Linked DNA regions of Homo sapiens: region 1 is linked to region 2. The links come from fine-mapping of genetic effects on gene expression. A gene starts in region 2. The other region holds a variant in brackets. All regions are shown on one strand. Distances are between the middles of the regions. Region 1 overlaps RDH12 (retinol dehydrogenase 12). Region 2 holds the start of VTI1B (vesicle transport through interaction with t-SNAREs 1B).

What was found. PIP is the estimated chance that this variant, and not a neighbour inherited with it, causes the effect.
Region 1: its variant is fine-mapped to the expression of VTI1B in transverse colon (GTEx, PIP 0.97).

The regions. Positions count from the first base shown.
Region 1 is chr14:67,717,894-67,727,050 of GRCh38, reverse strand. It overlaps RDH12 (retinol dehydrogenase 12), which reads right to left. Exons shown (of 9, transcript NM_152443.3): 2 at 6,149-6,203; 3 at 4,341-4,627; 4 at 2,460-2,578; 5 at 1,797-1,952; 6 at 896-1,000; 7 at 1-70. The coding sequence starts at 4,408. It also overlaps a transcript of GPHN not described here. Among named protein-coding and RNA genes, the nearest start is that of RDH12, 21 kb to the right of the region's middle. The variant C/A (reference allele first, on the strand shown) is at 4,032.
Region 2 is chr14:67,669,046-67,678,404 of GRCh38, reverse strand. VTI1B (vesicle transport through interaction with t-SNAREs 1B) reads left to right here and starts at 3,773. Exons shown (of 6, transcript NM_006370.3): 1 at 3,773-4,030. The coding sequence starts at 3,916. RDH11 (retinol dehydrogenase 11) reads left to right here. Exons shown (of 7, transcript NM_016026.4): 7 at 1-1,605. The coding sequence ends at 84. It also overlaps a transcript of GPHN not described here. RefSeq lists silencers at 3,449-3,888, 3,989-4,098.

The sequences.
Region 1 (9,157 bases), 49 kb before region 2:
ACATTAACCACCCGTGCAGGGGCAGACACCTTTAGCCGCTCCAGGAGCAGGTAGGTGAGGAGGAAGTGGCCTGTGAGGAGAGCCAGCAGGGAAGATTGAAAGTGGAATGACAGCCCAGGCTCAGCATGTGGGAGCCAAGAGGACTTCAGTGTTAGCTCACTATCTTCTGGGTGTGAACCAATTTTGATGCCATGAGTAACTCTAATGGTCAGTTTGGTCTGAGTTTGTGGATTCCTCAAAGCAAGAGCCAGAGCTAGACTACAAGTAAGGCAATCATACTTAATTATATTACTTTGTACCTCTGCCCTTGACCCACCTGCTGGCTTCCAACTCCCACTCTGGCCATGATCGCATAACTAGGGACCCAGGTACACTTGTGTATAGGCAGAAGGATAGAACAGTCAGGGAAGATAACATTTGCTTAGGATCAGAAAACATGCTCCATGCTCTCCTCCCTAAAGTCTTTGCCTTGAACGCTGAACCCCACCCTGCCTCGTACTCAAGTTCTCAAGGATTGCCTACCTCCGTGGACCAACCCATGGCTTGGTTGGCCATCATGTAGATGTGACCCCTCCAGCCAAGCCCAGATGCCTGCATAACCCCAGGTCTGGCCCTGCCTGGCAAGCCTTGTACTGCCACTGCCCCATCCAAGAATGACATTCTTCTCCCTGGTATTTCCTGAAATTTGGGGCTTCTTAATGGTATGGGTAGGAAGATCTCACTTTTTTAGACTGATCAGGAGAGGTACAGTGAACAACAAGCCAATGGGTCTAGTCTATTGGAATTCCTAGGCTCTATGAAGGCCCCTGGACATTCTCCACATTTACACAGTGTCATCTTCCTAAAGAAAAGATAGTGGGTGTACCTCATTTTTTAGTCACCCAAAGATACTTACCCAGGTGGTTGACTCCCAGGTGGGTTTCAAAGCCATCAGCTGTCTTGGAATATGGACACATCATTACTCCCGCATTGTTGATCAGAATATGGAGCTGCTTTTCCTCTATAGGGCACAACCAAAGAGATCCTATGGTTAGCAAGGAGTCCCCTAGCTGCCTGTAACAGACCTGCATAATTGCCCTTTCCCTTTGTTCATTAGTTGTCTTTGTTGGGGTAACATTTTGATAGGAGTCACTTGCTCTGCCCCTTCCTTTTAAAACAAGGTATTGCCTCAGCACTCAATAACTATCCTTCATTTGGACCTATCTCAGTGACATCCAATAAGCATTGTCACTGGGTTTCTAATGAGTAATTTTAGTTACTCATATCTTCCTGGACATTGTTCATTCATTTATTCAGCAAATGTGTACTAACTACCGACTCTGAGCCAGGTGCACTCTGCTGGGCACTAGGAATCCAGTGGTAACACAAGCCAGACATGGTCCCAGGATGTCCCTCATGGATTTCATAGTCCGTGGTAGAAGCTGGTCATTTTCCAAGATCCAGAAGAACTTGCCAGCAGCACAACTTCATCTCATGCCTATGGCCACACAAGGTTGATTCTCAGGATGAAAGAAGAGAGTGGCATTGTGGCCACACCTTGATGCCAAGGTGCAAGCCCAGACAGGGAGCTAACACCTCCGACATTCCCATTGCTGAGGCGAAAAGATGATAAGGATCCTGCCCAGTCTATCTACCCACCATCCTCTTGCCAATTCCCTGTCCTGCTGGTTCATGTGGCAGAACCTGTCTAGTGGGGTGGATGATGGTTCTGATGTAAGGGCCATAGATGGTCTAGGGTGGAGCAGCCACTCCCATACCCAATTTCCTGCTTTTCTACCTACCCATCAGGACCTCACCTGCCAGAAAGCCCTCAGCAAAGGCTCGGATAGATTTGGTGTCGGATAGGTCCAATTTCCGCACCAGCACCTGGGAGTTCTTTGTATCCACTCGGATTTCACTGGCAGCAGACTCCCCCTTCAGTACATCTCTGCAGGCAATATAGACTCGGGCTCCTGGGTCCAAGACAAAAAAAGAGCAGTATGTTCATATCCTAGGCTATAAAGGAGGTATAGTAAGTGAGCTTGGGACTGGGGGACAGAGCATTCATTCTCCCAGCCATCCTTCAACGGTAGAGTGAACATATTGCCACTTCGGGCTTTTCACAGTAGTACTGTTCAGTCTTCTTGCTGTCAGTTTAATCCCAGGCTGGGAACCTGGTTCCCAGGTTTTACATTCTGATATTTAATGTCACTTAGTATCTCCTTTTAGAATAACTGACTTGGCTATACACAGACATCGTTTTCCTTATTTTATTTAATAGAGAGGGAATAGGAAAGAAGCAGTTTATTGGAGGCCACAGTGTAAGTTGGTGTCACAGTTGGACTTGAATCCCAGGTTCCTTGAATTTCTAGTCAGAGCCCCCAAGCCTAGGAGGAAACACAAAGCAATATGGACAGAGGCCCCAGTGGGAAGAAGGGTGGGAGGCATGGCCCTTTGGAGACTAAAGGGGAAACACTTACCTCGGCTAGCGAGCTCTCTGGCCGTCTCCTTGCCAATGCCCGTGTTGGCGCCAGTGATCACCACTACCTTGCCAGGAAGCTGCACATTTGTTCTACACACTCCACCAGCAAAGAACTTCCTATCGGCAAGGGAAACAAGAGCATCACGTACCATCCTTCACGAGCTCACACTAAGATACGTTAAAAAAAAAAAAAAAAACTCTATCCAGCCTCAAAGAAGGGTATCTTTAAGTTGCAGTCAGGAGACTCATAAAAGCTAACCTTCATAGGACAACATTTTTCCATGGGGCAAGGTAGTCGCCTGTTTATCGGTGCAGGTGGGAAGATCACTTGCCCAGAAGCCACAAATAATCATATTAGCAAACAGAGTAAATGCTGGAGTCAGGGCCAATGGAGACTTTCCTTGTTAGATAATAAATACATCTAGCTCTTATCTCTAGAGGTTCCAGAGGAAAGCTTTCCCCTCTAACCTACATTCAAAACATATGCATGATAAACATTAGCGGAGTCAATATTCAGTAACCATCATCATGAGTAACTGATGAACAGCACTCTGTGGGGGGTGGCACACACAGGTACTGCTCTTAGCACTCTGGGGGATGGCATACACAGGTACTGATCTTAGGCTGCCTCTCCAGTTTTAGGGAGTGGGTCATTTCCGAGGCTTTCAGCCATTGTATTAGAGATTTCATTCTGGCCGATGGCAAACAGAGAGAAAACCTCCTTTGTTCAGACCTCTGTGCAGAGAGCACTCTTTTACATGAAGTTGACTTCACAGGTCCTAAAACAGAATACGGAGGGGCAGAACTAACATTTCCTGCACATCATCTGACTGCCAATTACTAGTCTAGGCACTTTCCATATGTAATTTATTTTAATCCTCTCAACTTCTCCAGTATTATTTCCACATTACAGTAGAGAAAACTGAGGCTCAGGGAGGTTCATGTCACATAGTGGTGGCAGAAGTGGGACTTGAACCCAGATCTCTATGGAGAACCTAGAATAACACTGTCCTTGGTAGGTCCATTTAACCTCCTTTATCATAAGAAATTTTTTAGGCTGAGCCCAGTGGCTCATGCCTGTAATCCCAACATCTTGGGAGGCCAACGTGGGATGGTCGCTTAAGCCCAGGAGTTTGAGACCAGCCTGGGCAACATAGTGAGACCCCCATCTCCACAAAAAATTTAAAAAGTAGCTGGGTGTAGTGGCACCTGCCTATATTCCCAACTACTTGGGAGGCTGAGGCAGGAGGGTTGCTTGAGCCCAAGAGTTCAAGGCTGCAGTGACCTATGACTACACCAATGCACTCCACCCTGGGGTGACAGAGCAAAAATTAAAAAAGAGAAATTTAAAAATTCTCCACTCAGAACACACTTTTATTTGACACCTCTAGAAATCCCACAGCAAAAAAGCCATCCCAAAACATTAATTGAGGGTAGTCTCAAAGGCAGAAGAGTTTGTTTCTTTCCCAAACTACCTGGTACTTAACAGCATGACAAGCCAGCAGGGCCACCCTGAATAGGGACAGAGTCTCCGAGTTCTTCAGAGACACCCAAAGGAATAAAATGAAAA[C/A]GCAAGGACTCCCACCTAAGGTGTTTGTTGAGCTACTTGACAGAGTCATCCATGCAGCCTTCCGCTGGCAGTAGAACTCTCCCCAGAGCTCAGGTGGGGCCAGAACTCAGCCCCACCTCTGCCCGGCCGCAGATGCTTCCTTCTGGTTTTCCACCATGGTATCCACAACACCCCCTTCCTTCCTGCTTTTCCTGCCCTGACTTTCTCCTCTGTCAGCCTCCTTCCCTTTCTCTTCTTTCAGCAGCTGAGAACCGGCTTCCAGTGCAGGTCTTTGTAAACGATTGTTTGAGTTGCTGAATTAAGACAAACCTGATGGATGGAGCTACCATATACAGGAACGAGAAGAAGGAGGTGAGCAGTCCCAAGGTGACCAGCATCGTTCCAACTTCTGTAGCTGCTGTTGCTTTTGCTGCTGCTCCAGCTTCAACCCCAGCTCTGGCTCAGGTTCCTGGTCTGGCTCCAGCTCTTGGCTGCTTCTGCTGCTTCTCTGCTCCTCTCCGTCCTGGGTGCTGAGCAGCAGCCTGACTCTGAGCAGAGCCCAGAATCCTATTTAAATCCAAGAGCTGTCAGAGCACAGCCTGCTGGGAGATGTAGTCCTGGTGGGGAGGGGATGGAGTCAAGGTTTGAAGCTTACTTAGGTTTACTGGCAAAGAGAATGTGGGGAAACTAAAGCAAGTACCCCCTAAACCCCCCATCCTCAATTGTTTCTCTTCTCTAGGAAATGTGTTCTCCCAACCACTGCCACCTCTACTGCAAGATGGAATATATAGAATATTTCTAACTTTAGCCACAAACCCCATGATGCTTAAAATATGAGTGGATTAAAATAGGATGGGAAGGAAACTCCCAGAAGAATGGAGAGAGACGTCAGAAGAGCAGTTAACCTTAGGGAGGAGGGGGCAGTGACTGGGGAGGGAGATGACTGGAACTCCTGGAGGGCTGAGAGTGCTCTGCTCTTTCATCTGGGTGCTAGTACATGGGTGTGCTCACTTTATGAAAATCTGCTGAGTCGTATGCTTTCGACTTGTGCACTTTTCTGCATTTTATATTTTACTTCAATGAAGTTAACACACGCACATGCATATTACAAGGAAAGGTATGGTGTTTAAGTGCATGGACTCTAGCGCTGAATCTATTTAAAAGCTCCACGGCCCTGGGCAAGTTACTAAACCTCTCTGTTAACTCAGTTTTCTCACTTGTACAATGGGTATGATTATATATATAATATATGGTTTTATATATATATGTGTTATACATATATATATATATATATATATATATCCCCACTTGTTCTAAGTGTTCAATTATTACATTGGTGGAAAACGAAACTGGCATATGCTAAACAGTATATAAGAGTCAGCTGTTATGGTTAGCTGTTCTGATTCGTATCTCCCTTGCTATCTCACTTGCTTTACTCAAGGCCATGGTGTAGAAAAGGGAGAGATGATGAACGTGGGTGATGTTTCAGTTGAATGCTATTGAAGATGAGGAGAAATACAAGAAAATGCTGGTAAAGAGCCCAAGGTAGGGGGATCCCTTGAGGCCAGAAGTTCAAGACTGAGCTTAGGCAACTTAGTGAGACCCTGTCTCTACAAAAAATTATCTGGGTGTGGTGGTGCGTGCCTGTAATCCTAGCTACTCGGGAGGCTGAGTAGGGAGGATCACTTGAGCTCAGAGGTCAAGGTTGAAGTGAGCTAGGATCGTGCCTCTGGATGTGTGTGAGATGGGAGAAGGGTAAGTGGGATTCATTGCCCTTCCTCGCTCTGTGTTCCTCTCTTGGACAGAAGAATAGACAAGGAGCTGGGACAGGACCCCAGGAATAATTTCCCAGTTCTGTCCCTTCCTGTGAAGCCAGAGGAGCCTCCAGGAACACCCATGCATGAAAGACTTCTGTGGCAGGCAGGTGTTCATGTCCTCATTCATCAGTTCATCCTCAACACACATTTACTGAGTGTTTCTCTGCACCAGGAATTGTGCAACATACTAGGAAGACACAGTTTCTGCCCCTGGGGAAACCCATGGACCTGACCAACAGAACAAGGAGTGATCAGATCATTCCCAGCAGACACTTCTTGACTCAAATCTAAGATCCTTGCATTTAAGAAGATGGTACTCACCTTAGCTTGAGCTTGTCCAGGAAGCAGAGAGTCCTTAAGAACAGCATACAGTCCTCTGGAGAGAAGATATTAGAAGGACCATAAGGCATCTAGAATTATGAAAATACACAAACACTTTGCTAAAATAAAATGTTAAATATTATAATCCAAAGGCCACCATCATATCATTGATAAGTTGTACCAAAATGCTAAACCATACTACTAAGTACAGGTAGGTGAATAGGCAGACAAATCAATAGAACAGAATGGAAAGGCAAGAAATAGACCCAAATACACATGGGCATTTAGATATGATGAAAATGCCATTTCAAATCAGTGGAAGGGACAGATGATTTAATTAACAAAGTATTGTGGCACCTAGGTATCCAGCTGGGAAAAAGCAAACTTGATCCTTCCAAAATTCGAATACCTCAAAGACGTAAGTATGAGAAATGAAACCACTGAAGTATTAAGAAGAACCACTGGACACATTTTTAGAGTGGTAAGACCTTTCTAGTAAGACAGGAAACTGAAAACTAAAACTTAAAAAATGAGCATGACAAAAACCATCATACACAAGGCAAGATAAATGAGAAACTGGGGGGAAATATTCATAACAGGCTTTGAAGACAAGAGACTAATTGATTTAGTAGATAAAGAACTCTTACAAATCAGTAAGAAAAGGAATAACAACCCAATTGAAATAGCAGTTTACAAAAAAGGAAATACAAGTGGCTCTTCACCCTCACTCATATGAGAGATGCAAATTAAAATTATACTGGGAGCCACTTTTCACTTATCAGATTGCCAAAGGTCAAAAAGATTGTAGTATGATCCACTGGCAAGCATGTGAAGAAATAATGCTGATGCATTGCTCGTGGGAGAGTCCATTGTTAAAGCCTCCATAGAGAGAAGTGTTGTAATGTCTAGTAAAGCTGTGCATGCACTCATTCACCTAAACATTCGACTTCCATGTATTTATAAGGTTACCATTATAGCATTGTATATTATAGCAGAAGTTTGGAAACCTCCTAAATGTCCATCAATAGTAAAGCCACATAATAGATAGTATACAGCTGTAAAAAAAGAATAAATAATTAAGAAACAGAATAAATAAAAAACTTAAGTAAATAAACATTAAATTTTGGTTGGGCACTGTGGCTTACATCTGTAATTCCTGCACTTTGGGAAACCGAGGCAGGAGGATCACGTGAGACCAGAAGTTCAAGACCAACCTGGGCAACATAGTGAGACCCCGTCTCTACAAAAAGGAAAACTAAAAATTAGCTGGCCTGGTGGCACACACCTGTGGTCCCAGCTACTTGGGAGGCTGAGGCAGGAGGATCACTTGAGCCCAGGAGGTTGAGGCTGCATTGAGCCATGATCATGCCACTACACTCCAGCCTGGGCAACAGAGCAAGACCCTGTCTCTAAAAAAAAGAAAAGAAAAAATAAATAAACTTTTCAGCAAAAAGACCCTGATAACCTGCAGGACACATTTCACAGGCTTCCAAATGAACTGCTTGGAAAAGGTCTTAAGACTGATGGCTTACATCCTGTCTCTGAGTAAAGAATCTTATCGTGAGGCACTCAAATTCTATTGCGAGTTCCTCAAACTATGTATTTATTAATTGTCAGGTTACTGATTAATACTGACATTGAAAGGGACATTGTTTTCTTTCTAAATCATAAAGCTCTGCTGATTTGTTTTTACTGATTGTCTTGTGCATAAAACATTTTAGCCTGTACGCTGTCATCCATAGGCAATGATTGTAACCTCTGTATTGTACCCTCCAATGGAAAAGGATAACTCCGATATGAGGAGTCCCCCTTCCTTCTCCTAAACAGTCTTATAAAAGCATTCCAACTTGTAACAGATGTTGGAACATGCCCAACTTTGTTGGTGTATCTTACTGGATAAATTCTCACATTTGGCTTCCAATAAACTTTTATCAATTTATCTCTGCCCCAATGGCCTTAATTTCTGTTGAAAACCGTATCATTTTGCAACAACTTACATGTTTATCTTTGTTAAATTAATCATTGCAGTATCACAAATAAAGCTATTTCTCAAACTGGTATCGAGACATTCTTAAACATGCTTTGGCACATAAGCAAAGCCATAATCATCACCCACTTCATCATTGTAATCAACATCAAAAAAGCCAGGGACCAATAGGATACCTGCTCTTTAGGGATTTTCAATCTGGGACAGATATAGGCATAAGTCACAGAGAGAAAGAGATGAAAACACCAGAGGAACCAGTGTAGGAATAGGCCTGAAGTTCAGTGATGACAGAGCACTCATCACTTGCAACACCTTTGAGAAGGATCCTCTTCTAGCCTCACCGTGAGTGAATCAATCACAGGTCAGGTTCCCGGATCAGCCATCCTCCCAGGGCTAACACTGAGGCAGGGATGTGTGGAGATCACATGCTATGAAGCAGAGCTGGGAAGCTGCTTGCTGATTTGACCTTTGGTCATAAATCATCTAGCAGCTCATACTGTACTGGTCTCCTGGTTATCCCTGTCCTGGATACCCTACTAAGAATGGAGCCTCTTACAAAATAGAGTGAGAGGGAAAACTGTAAACTTCTCTTTCTCTTCCTCCCTTCCTCCTTCTCCTCTTCCCTATTCTTCAAATCACATATTTTGGAAGCCAGATGAGACAGGTGGGAGATGACAGATTCCATCTTTCTACTGCAAGCCCTGCCCAACTTCCCTAAGGAGCCCGTACAGCACCACAGTTATTTCCTTTTCCAGCCATGAGGAACTTGCTGCCTCTTCCCATGCCCTGACCCCAAACAGCAAACCAAAATGGAAGCACATTTTTTTGTATTTGTTTTAACCAATAATAATGACTTGTTGTTCCTTTTTCTTGATTTTAAAAGCTAAAATAAACACACTGTCTTTCTCAAAGAAAAAGAATTTTTGCTGCTAGTATGTAACTTCCGTTGATTTTTCAAGGGATCAGCAACCCTTACTCTTAATTCACAGCAGGCACTATTGACATTTAAAAAAAAATAGAGA
Region 2 (9,359 bases):
GTCTCTGCCCAAGCTCGTAATGAGACTATAGCAAGGCGGCTGTGGGACGTCAGTTGTGACCTGCTGGGCCTCCCAATAGACTAACAGGCAGTGCCAGTTGGACCCAAGAGAAGACTGCAGCAGACTACACAGTACTTCTTGTCAAAATGATTCTCCTTCAAGGTTTTCAAAACCTTTAGCACAAAGAGAGCAAAACCTTCCAGCCTTGCCTGCTTGGTGTCCAGTTAAAACTCAGTGTACTGCCAGATTCGTCTAAATGTCTGTCATGTCCAGATTTACTTTGCTTCTGTTACTGCCAGAGTTACTAGAGATATCATAATAGGATAAGAAGACCCTCATATGACCTGCACAGCTCATTTTCCTTCTGAAAGAAACTACTACCTAGGAGAATCTAAGCTATAGCAGGGATGATTTATGCAAATTTGAACTAGCTTCTTTGTTCACAATTCAGTTCCTCCCAACCAACCAGTCTTCACTTCAAGAGGGCCACACTGCAACCTCAGCTTAACATGAATAACAAAGACTGGCTCAGGAGCAGGGCTTGCCCAGGCATGGTGGATCACCGGAGGTCAGTAGTTCAAGACCAGCCTGGCCAACATGGTGAAACCCCACCTCTACTAAAAATTGTGTATATCTTTGTGTGTCTTCCTGTTTATGTGTGCCAAGGGAGTATTTTCACAAAGTTCAAAACAGCCACAATAATCAGAGATGGAGCAAACCAGTGCCATCCAGTCTTTATGCAAATGAAATGCTGCAAAGGGAAGCAGATTCTGTATATGTTGGTAACTACCCACCAAGAGCACATGGGTAGCAGGGAAGAAGTAAAAAAAGAGAAGGAGAATACTGGAAGATAATGCACAAAATGAAGGGACTAGTTAAGGATTAACTAGCCCTTTAAGGATTAACTAGTTAAGGATTAATAGCAAAAGATATTAAATATGCTAACATAGCTATGGAGGAATTGAGGGCAAGCACCCAGGACTGATGAGGTCTTAACAAAAACCAGTGTGGCAAAAAAAAAAAAAAAAAAAAAAAAAAAAATCCTAAAAACAAACAAACAAAAAAAACAATTCTTCATTCAGAAAAATTATCTTAGGGACTGATATTGGTAATTATGGTCAATTTAATAATATTTTGGGGCATTTCCTTACATTGTCTTGACAAGATTAAAATGTCTGTGCCAAAATTTTGTATTTTATTTGGAGACTTCTTATCAAAAGTAATGCTGCCAAAGGAAGTCTAAGGAATTAGTAGTGTTCCCATCACTTGTTTGGAGTGTGCTATTCTAAAAGATTTTGATTTCCTGGAATGACAATTATATTTTAACTTTGGTGGGGGAAAGAGTTATAGGACCACAGTCTTCACTTCTGATACTTGTAAATTAATCTTTTATTGCACTTGTTTTGACCATTAAGCTATATGTTTAGAAATGGTCATTTTACGGAAAAATTAGAAAAATTCTGATAATAGTGCAGAATAAATGAATTAATGTTTTACTTAATTTATATTGAACTGTCAATGACAAATAAAAATTCTTTTTGATTATTTTTTGTTTTCATTTACCAGAATAAAAACTAAGAATTAAAAGTTTGATTACAGTCAAAAGAAGAAAACACTGTTCATTATTATGGTTGTGCAATGATTTCTCATTCTAAAGAATAATTTGTTCCAGAGTCTAGCTACAGTGTAATCTCAATCCACATGCTATTAATTTAGGTTGTGTGATAATCTAATTGTTCATTCACCATTTCCTACTTAACCTTTTTTGACACTCTTCACAGACACTTTTTCCACATTTCTTGATCATCCCGGGCCATTTTTTTTTCCTTTCTTTTTAATTAGAGACAGCGTCTTGCTTTGTTGCCCAGGCTGGCCTCAAACTCTGGGCTCAAGCGATCCTCCCACCTTGGCCTCCCAAAGTGCTGGGGTACAGGTGTGAGCCGCAGCACCCGGCCCCAGGCTATTGATCCTTTTTTTGCACCTGCCCCTTATTTCTGTACTGTGACAAGTCCCAGCATTGTGCTGTGGGACTTACACAGTATACTGACTATCCTCAGACTTGGTCATGTCTATGCTCAGTGCATATTAAGAGCTTAACCAAAGTGTGTTGAATCAACAGCCAATGAACTTGATCTAATAAAAATGAGGGCCCAGGAGATACAAATTAGCAAAGCATTTTCTCCTGAGCAGTCATACATCTTTTAATATTTGTAGGCAGTTTAAAATTGAACTCCCAAGCAAACATTTGAGAACAGACACCTTGAGCAAACCGTGAAATCGGTGAAAATAATAATTTATTTTAATTTTTTGAGATAGGGTCTTCTCTGTCACCCAGGCTGGAGTGTGGTGGCACGATCTCAGCTCACTGCAACCACTGCCTCCCGGGTTCAGGCGATTCTCCTGCCTCAGCCTCCCGAGTAGCTGGGGTTACAGGCGCCCACCACCACGCTTGGCTAATTTTTGTGTTTTTAGCAGAGACGGGGGTTTCACCATGTTGGCCAGGCTGGTCTTGAACTCTTGACCTGAAGTGATCCGCCCGCCTCGGCCTCCCAAAGTGCTGGGATGACGCGTGAGCCACCATGCCCGACGTGAAGACAGGAATTTATACCCATGGAGTGCAAGAAGGGACCTTGTAATTTTTAACACGTGACACTTAGTGGCAGATGAGACCTAATGAAGCCAGGCCCACCTTCCACACCAGATTATAAATTCCCCTGGAGCAGAGATTAAATGTTTTATTCACCAACATGCCCAGATCCCTCGCAATGCCTACGCTTGACAAACACCTGTTGTCAACAAGTGCACGAGGCAGCCTAGGAGGAGAATTAGTCTCCACGAGGAGAATTACTCGGGCCTAGCAGCTAGAGTATTTCGAGGTCATCCTAACTGGGTTCCACTTTTGAATTTTTGGTTTTTGGGTTTTTTGTTTTTTTGGAGACAAGATCTCGCTCCACTTGGGAGCAAGGTCTCCCAAAGCTGGAGTGCAGTGGTGGGACCTCAGCCTCCGGGGGTAGCTGGGGCCAAAAGTGCGCGCCACCATGCCCGGTTCTTATTTTGGGTTTCTGGTAGAGCTCTCGCTATTGTGCCCAGGCTGGTCTCGAACTACTGGGTTCAAGCAATCCTCCCACCTCGGCCTCCCAAAGTACTGGGATTACAGGCGCGAGCCACTCGCCCGGCCGGGTTCCACTTCTGAAAGCTTGGGGAGCCGCTGGGCCTTCCAAGAAAAGTGCTCCACCTCCCGACGGCAGGCAGAGCCCCTGGCCCGGCTATCTTTCCAGGGCCGAAAGCTAACAGTCAAGACGCGAAACGAGGAATTCGGGTCAGGGTGGCAAAGCAAAGCGCGATGACAGTGAGGACGACGTCTAGACGCAAACATACATCAAATCGGGCCGAAGCCCGCTGTCGCCGCGCGGGCTGAACCTGGCACCCGGAGCAACGCGCGACCCCGGGACGAGACGCTCTCGTCCGAGCCAAACTACATCCCCCGGCGTGCACTGCAGCGCCCGCCCCTCGCCGGCCGGCGGGGCCCGGGAGGAAGGCGGCCGCGCTGCCAGTCCCGCAGGTCCCCTAGGCCCCTTTCGCTGCGGCCTTTCCCCAACCCGGACCCGGCACTTCTCGGGTTCCGCGACTGCCGATCGCCCCGGCGCGGCACCGCTCCCTCAGGAGTCGCCTAGGCCGCGCAGTCTCCCGACTTCTCGTCAGGCTTTCGCGCCGGCGCTCCAGCAATCACTGGCTGGAGAAGGTGGGCGTTCCGGCTCGAGAGGACCCTGCCGCGGCTCCGGAAGAGCCTCGTCCTGGGCGGCGGTGGTGCGGCGGTCGCCGTTATGGCCACTGGGCTGGGCGGCTGACCGCCGGGCTAGGAAAGGGCCCAGGGCCCCGAATCTCGGTGGCCGCTGCTCCAGCGCGGCCTGCGCCATGGCCTCCTCCGCCGCCTCCTCGGAGCATTTCGAGAAGCTGCACGAGATCTTCCGCGGCCTCCATGAAGACCTACAAGGGGTGCCCGAGCGGCTGCTGGGGACGGCGGGGACCGGTGAGGCGGGGGTGGGCCACGCCGTGGGGAGCGCAGCCCTGCGCGCTTTGGAAGGAAGATTCTCCCACCTTCCTCCCAGACCCGGGCCCGCGTCTCCTCCCTCCGCGTCCTCAGACACGCCCCCTAGGGCTGGCTTGTCCCAGCCCCAGGTCTCCCTGCTGCCACTGAGAGTAAATTGGACCTCGGGATTCAGTTCCCTGGGATCCTTCTATGGCCTTCCACATTTTCTCATCTTTTTTCACTGTGGCAAATAGAGCAGAGGGGCTTTTGCATCTGCGGTCCTGTAATGTAGAGTGGGTTTCTTTCATAGCTGTTTTTGTTTGTTTTATGCATTTAAAAGCACTAGTCTCAAGACAGGTCTAGTTTTCACCAGACTGACAGAGGATCCGTAGCACAGAAAAAGGGTTAAAAACCCAAAGGAGTCATAATTTGGGGGTGTTGGTAAATACCAGTTATTGGAGGGTAGAGAGCTGGCCTTTAAAACCTGATTGTGGCATTTAGATGTGGTCTTGTTTTGAACGTTTTTACAGCTGAGACTGTTTACTACCCCTTAATTTCATGATTCAGGTTGCTACAAGTTCTGTCTGGAGGAGCTAGAGTTTTCCGGCCCTAAATCCATAGGAAAAGCTGCTATAGTTCTTGGCCTCCGGATATATAGAATTTGATGGCAAGGACAAAACTTTGTTTTATTGCTTTTATTTAAGAGTCAGAGCTTGGGTGTTTGCTCAACGAATTACTCAAGGTCATAGGAATTGAATGACTGGTGAGAATGAAATTCATGTATTTAATATATATTTATTGTGAGGCTGCTGTGTGCTAGGTGCTGGTGAATTGTGAGGCACCGTTCTAGGTGCTGGTGAATATTGCAAATTACAGTGAAAAAGATACGAACATCCCCATTCTAGTGGGTAGGTGATAAACAATATATAACTATTAAGAGGCAGTGTTAAAGAATACAGGAAAGTAAATCAGAGTAAAAGAATAGGGGATGGGACTTCAGTTTTATTTTATTATTTATCATTTTTTTTTTTGAGACAGGGTCTCACTCTGTCACCCAGGCTGGAGTGCAGTGGCACGATCTCGGCTCACTGCAACCTCCACTTCCCAGATTGAAGCAATTCTCCTGCCTCAGCCTCTGGAGTAATAGGGATTACAGTTGCGCCACCACCCCTAGCTAATTATTTTTGTATTTTTAGTAGAGACAGGGTTTTGCCATGTTGGCCAGGCTGATCTCTAACTCCTGACCTCAAGTGATCCGCCTTCTTTGGGACTTCAGTTTTAAATAGGGCGGTTGTGAAAGTCCTCTCTGAGGAGATGGCGTTTGAACAGAGACTTAAATGAAGTGAGGGAGTAAACCAGAAATCAGGGAGAAGTGAGTGTCAGAAGGAGGGAATAGCACTGCAAATGCCTTTAAGCAGAAATGAGCTTGGTGTGTTCAGCGAAGAGCAGGAAGTTCCATGTGTTTGGGATGGAGTGAGCAAAGGAGAGCGATAAGCAGGGCCAGATCATGTAGGGCCTTGTGGACCATGGTGAAAGACTTGTGCCTTTTTCTAAATATGATGGGATGCAGTTAAAAGATACTGTGCAGAAGCATTGTGGGATCTGATTTATGTGATTGAAAAGTAGACTGCAGGCAGGGTACGGTGGCTCACACCTGTAATTCCAGCACTTGGGGAAGCCGAGGCGGGCGGATCACTTGAGGTCAGGAGTTCAAGACCAGCCTGGCCAATATGGTGAAACCCCATCTCTACTAAAAATACAAAAATTAGCCGGGCATGGTGTCAGTTGCCTGTAGTCCCAGCTACTCAGGAGGCTGAGGCAGAATTGCTTGAACCCAGGAGGCGGAGGTTGCAGTGAGCCGAGATCATGCCACTGAACTCCAGCCTGGGCAACAGATCAAGACTCTGTATCAAAAAAAAAAAAAAAAGAAAAGAAAAGAAAAAAAAGTAGACTGCAGGCCAGGCATGGTGGCTCACACCTGTAATCCCAGCACTTGGGGAAGCTGAGGCAGGAGTATTGCTGTGTTGAACGATTTTGAGACCAGCCTGGGCAACATGGTGAAACCTCATCTCTACAAAAAATAAAAAAATTAGCCAGGCATGGTGGTGCATGCCTGTAGTCCCAGCTCCTGGGGAGGCTGAGGTGGGAGGATCACTTGGGCCCTGGAGCTGGAGGTTGCAGTGAGCCAAGATCGCACCACTGCACTCTAGCCTGGACCACAGAGCAAGACTCTCCCAAAAAAAAAAAAAAATGTAGACTGCATTTTCAACCTGGCACTGAATTAATTTTTGCAATGCCCATTTCTATAAGTCTAAATAATGCAAAAGAACATTGCTTTGAAAAATAGAAAATTGAATTCATTATTACTATGGTTTGAATGTCCCCCTCTAAAACTTATGTTGACATTTATTTGCTATTTTAATCGCATTAAGAGGTGGGACCCATAAGAAATGATTAGACCATGAGGGCTCCATCCTCAGAGATTAGATTGTTATCCTGAGAGTGGCTTGGTTGTTGAGAGAGTGGGTTAGTTCAGCCCTCTCTTGCTTGCCTGCTCTCTTGATCTGTTGCCCTTCCATCTTCTGCCATGGGGTGACCCATGGGTAGCAAGAAGGCCCTTGAAAGAATCAGCCCTCTCAGCCTTGGGCTTCCCAGCCTCCAGAACTCTGAGAAATACATTTATTTTCTTTATAAATTACCCAGACTCAGCTATTCTGTTATAGCAACATAAAGCTAAGATAGTTACATTCACCTTTGTTGTCTACCCAGCCTTTTTCTCCATCCTGCAAAGAGGACAATCAGAAATATGTGAATTTCTTTTCTTTTTTCTTTCTTTTTTTTGTTTTTTTGAGATAGAGTCTTGCTCTGTCGCCCAGGCTGGAGTGCAGTGGTACAATCTCAGCTCACTGCAACCTCCACCTCCTGGGTTCAAGTGATTCTCATGCCTCAGCCTTCCGAGTAGCTGGGATTACAGGCGCATGCTACCACACCTAGCCAATTTTTGTATTTTTAGTAGACACGGGGTTTCACCATGTTGGCCAGGCTGGTCTCAAACTCCTGACCTCAAGTGATCTGCCCGCCACGGCCTCCCAAAGTGCTAGGATTACAGGTGTGAGCCACTGCGCCCAACCACAAAATACTCTAAGTTGCTGGTAACAGACATAGTTGTTTAATGGATAAGTAAAGAAAATATATACATATCCCTAGAATTATAATAAGTCCAACAACTTTACCTCTTATTCACTACCTCATTCACACTGCTCAATAAATGTTTGTTGAATAAATTGAATTTATCTAAGCAAACACATGGTGCCTCATCTCTGAATCCTCTTTTTCTAGTTCAGAGACCACATCATAAAGTTTTCAGAGCTTTAATGCCCATCATGAATTATTAGGCACAGCATAATGTACATAATACAGTCCTTGCATGTAGCTTATGCTCTGTAATTGAATTCAGTCATTTTTCAATAAACACTGAGAATTATTATGTATCAGCCACTGTCTAGGCTCTGAGGACTTCCAGAGTTCTTACCTTAAAAAGAAACAAACGGCCGGGCACGGTGGCTCATGCTGGTAGTCCCATCACTTTGGGAGGCCTAGGCGGGCGGATCACAAGGTCACGGATGGAGACCATCCTGGTCAACATGGTGAAACCCCATCTCTACTCAAAATACAAAAATTAGCTGGGTGTGGTGGCATGTGCCTGTAGTCCCAGCTACTCAGGAGGCTGAGGCAGGAGAATCGATTAAACCCAGGGGGCAGAGATTGCAGGCGACAGAGCGAGACTCTATCTCAGAAAAAAAAAAAGGTAACAAACCTTACAACCAAGTGTGTGATTAATCCTAAAATAAAGTTCTCTGAGACCATAAAAAGGGCTGGACTTGAGCATGGGGAAGAGGGGGAAGCTTCAAAAAACTTCAAACTGAATATAAGGGATTGAATGGGAGTTTGCTAGATGGGAAATGCGAAGAGGCAACACAGGAGTAAAACATGGAATACTCCCAACTCTGGAGCTTAGAATGTATGTGGGAAAGTAGTAGTAGAGGGGCAGGTGAAACAGCCAGATTGTGAGGGGATCTCAGTGTCACATTGAGACATTTGGACTTGATATGGAAAGTCAGTAAAGGACGTAAAGCAGTTGATTGATGTGGATTTTCTTTTAGAAGGAGGGCATTAATGGCTAGACAGGACAAGAGAGAGCACAAGAATCTGGGTACAGGGGACTGTGTTAAGAGCCTTTTGGGCAGTCACCTTGCTAACGGGAATTTGTTTGACACAGGTTCTCACTCCTGTCTCCCGTCATCCAGGCTGGAGTGCAGTGGCACCATCACTGCTCACTGCAGCCTTGGCTTCCCGGGCTCAGGTGATCCTCCCACCTCAGCCTCCCGAGTAGCTGGGACCACAGGTGCATGGCACCAGGCCTGGCTAATTTTTTGTATTTTTAGTAAGGGTCTCCCATGTTATCCAGGCTGTTCTCGAATTCCTGGGCTTAAGTGATCCACCCACCTCAGCCTCTTAAAGTGCTGGGGTTACAGGGGTGAGCTACAGTTCCCGGCCCAAGAGTTGGTTTTGAGGCAGAAATTAACCAGCCTCAATGGATATGAGGAGTGAGGGAGAAAGGTTCCAGGGTGTCTGCATTTTTTCACTTGGTCAACTGGGTGAATGATGAACTTAAGTAAGAAACATAAGAGGAGAAGCAGAGTTTGGGTTGTGGATGAGAATATCAAAGGTACCTGTAGAACAGAGATCATGACATAATATAGCCTTACAAAATGTTTCTTCTTCTGCCATTAAAAATAACATACGGGGGCCAGGTGTGGTGGCTCGTGCCTGTAATCCCAACATTTTGGGAGGCTGAGGCAGGAGGATTGCATGAGGCCAAGAGTTGGAGACCAGCCTTGGCAACATGGTGAGACCTATCTCTACAAAAAAAAAAAAGCTGAGTAGTGTGGTGCTGCTCACTTGTAATCCCAGCTGCTCAGGAGGCTGAGGCAGGAGGATCACTTGAGTCTAGCAGTTTGAAGTTTTAGTGAGCTGTCATCACATCATTGCACTCCAACCTGGGTGACAGAGCAAGACTCCGTCTCAAAAAAAAAAAAAAAAATTATGAAGAAGTATGTGAATTGAGAGGCCATATAGTATAATATTTAACAGCAAGAATTCAAGAGCCAGATTGCCTGAGTTTAAATTCACCTTCTAGTAGCAGTGTGACCTTGGACAGGTTACTTTAACCCAATTAGTTTTTCCTGCCAAATGGGGATAAATCATAGTATCTACTTCACAGGGTTTTTGTGAGGAGTAAATGAGTTAATATATGTAAAGTCCTTAG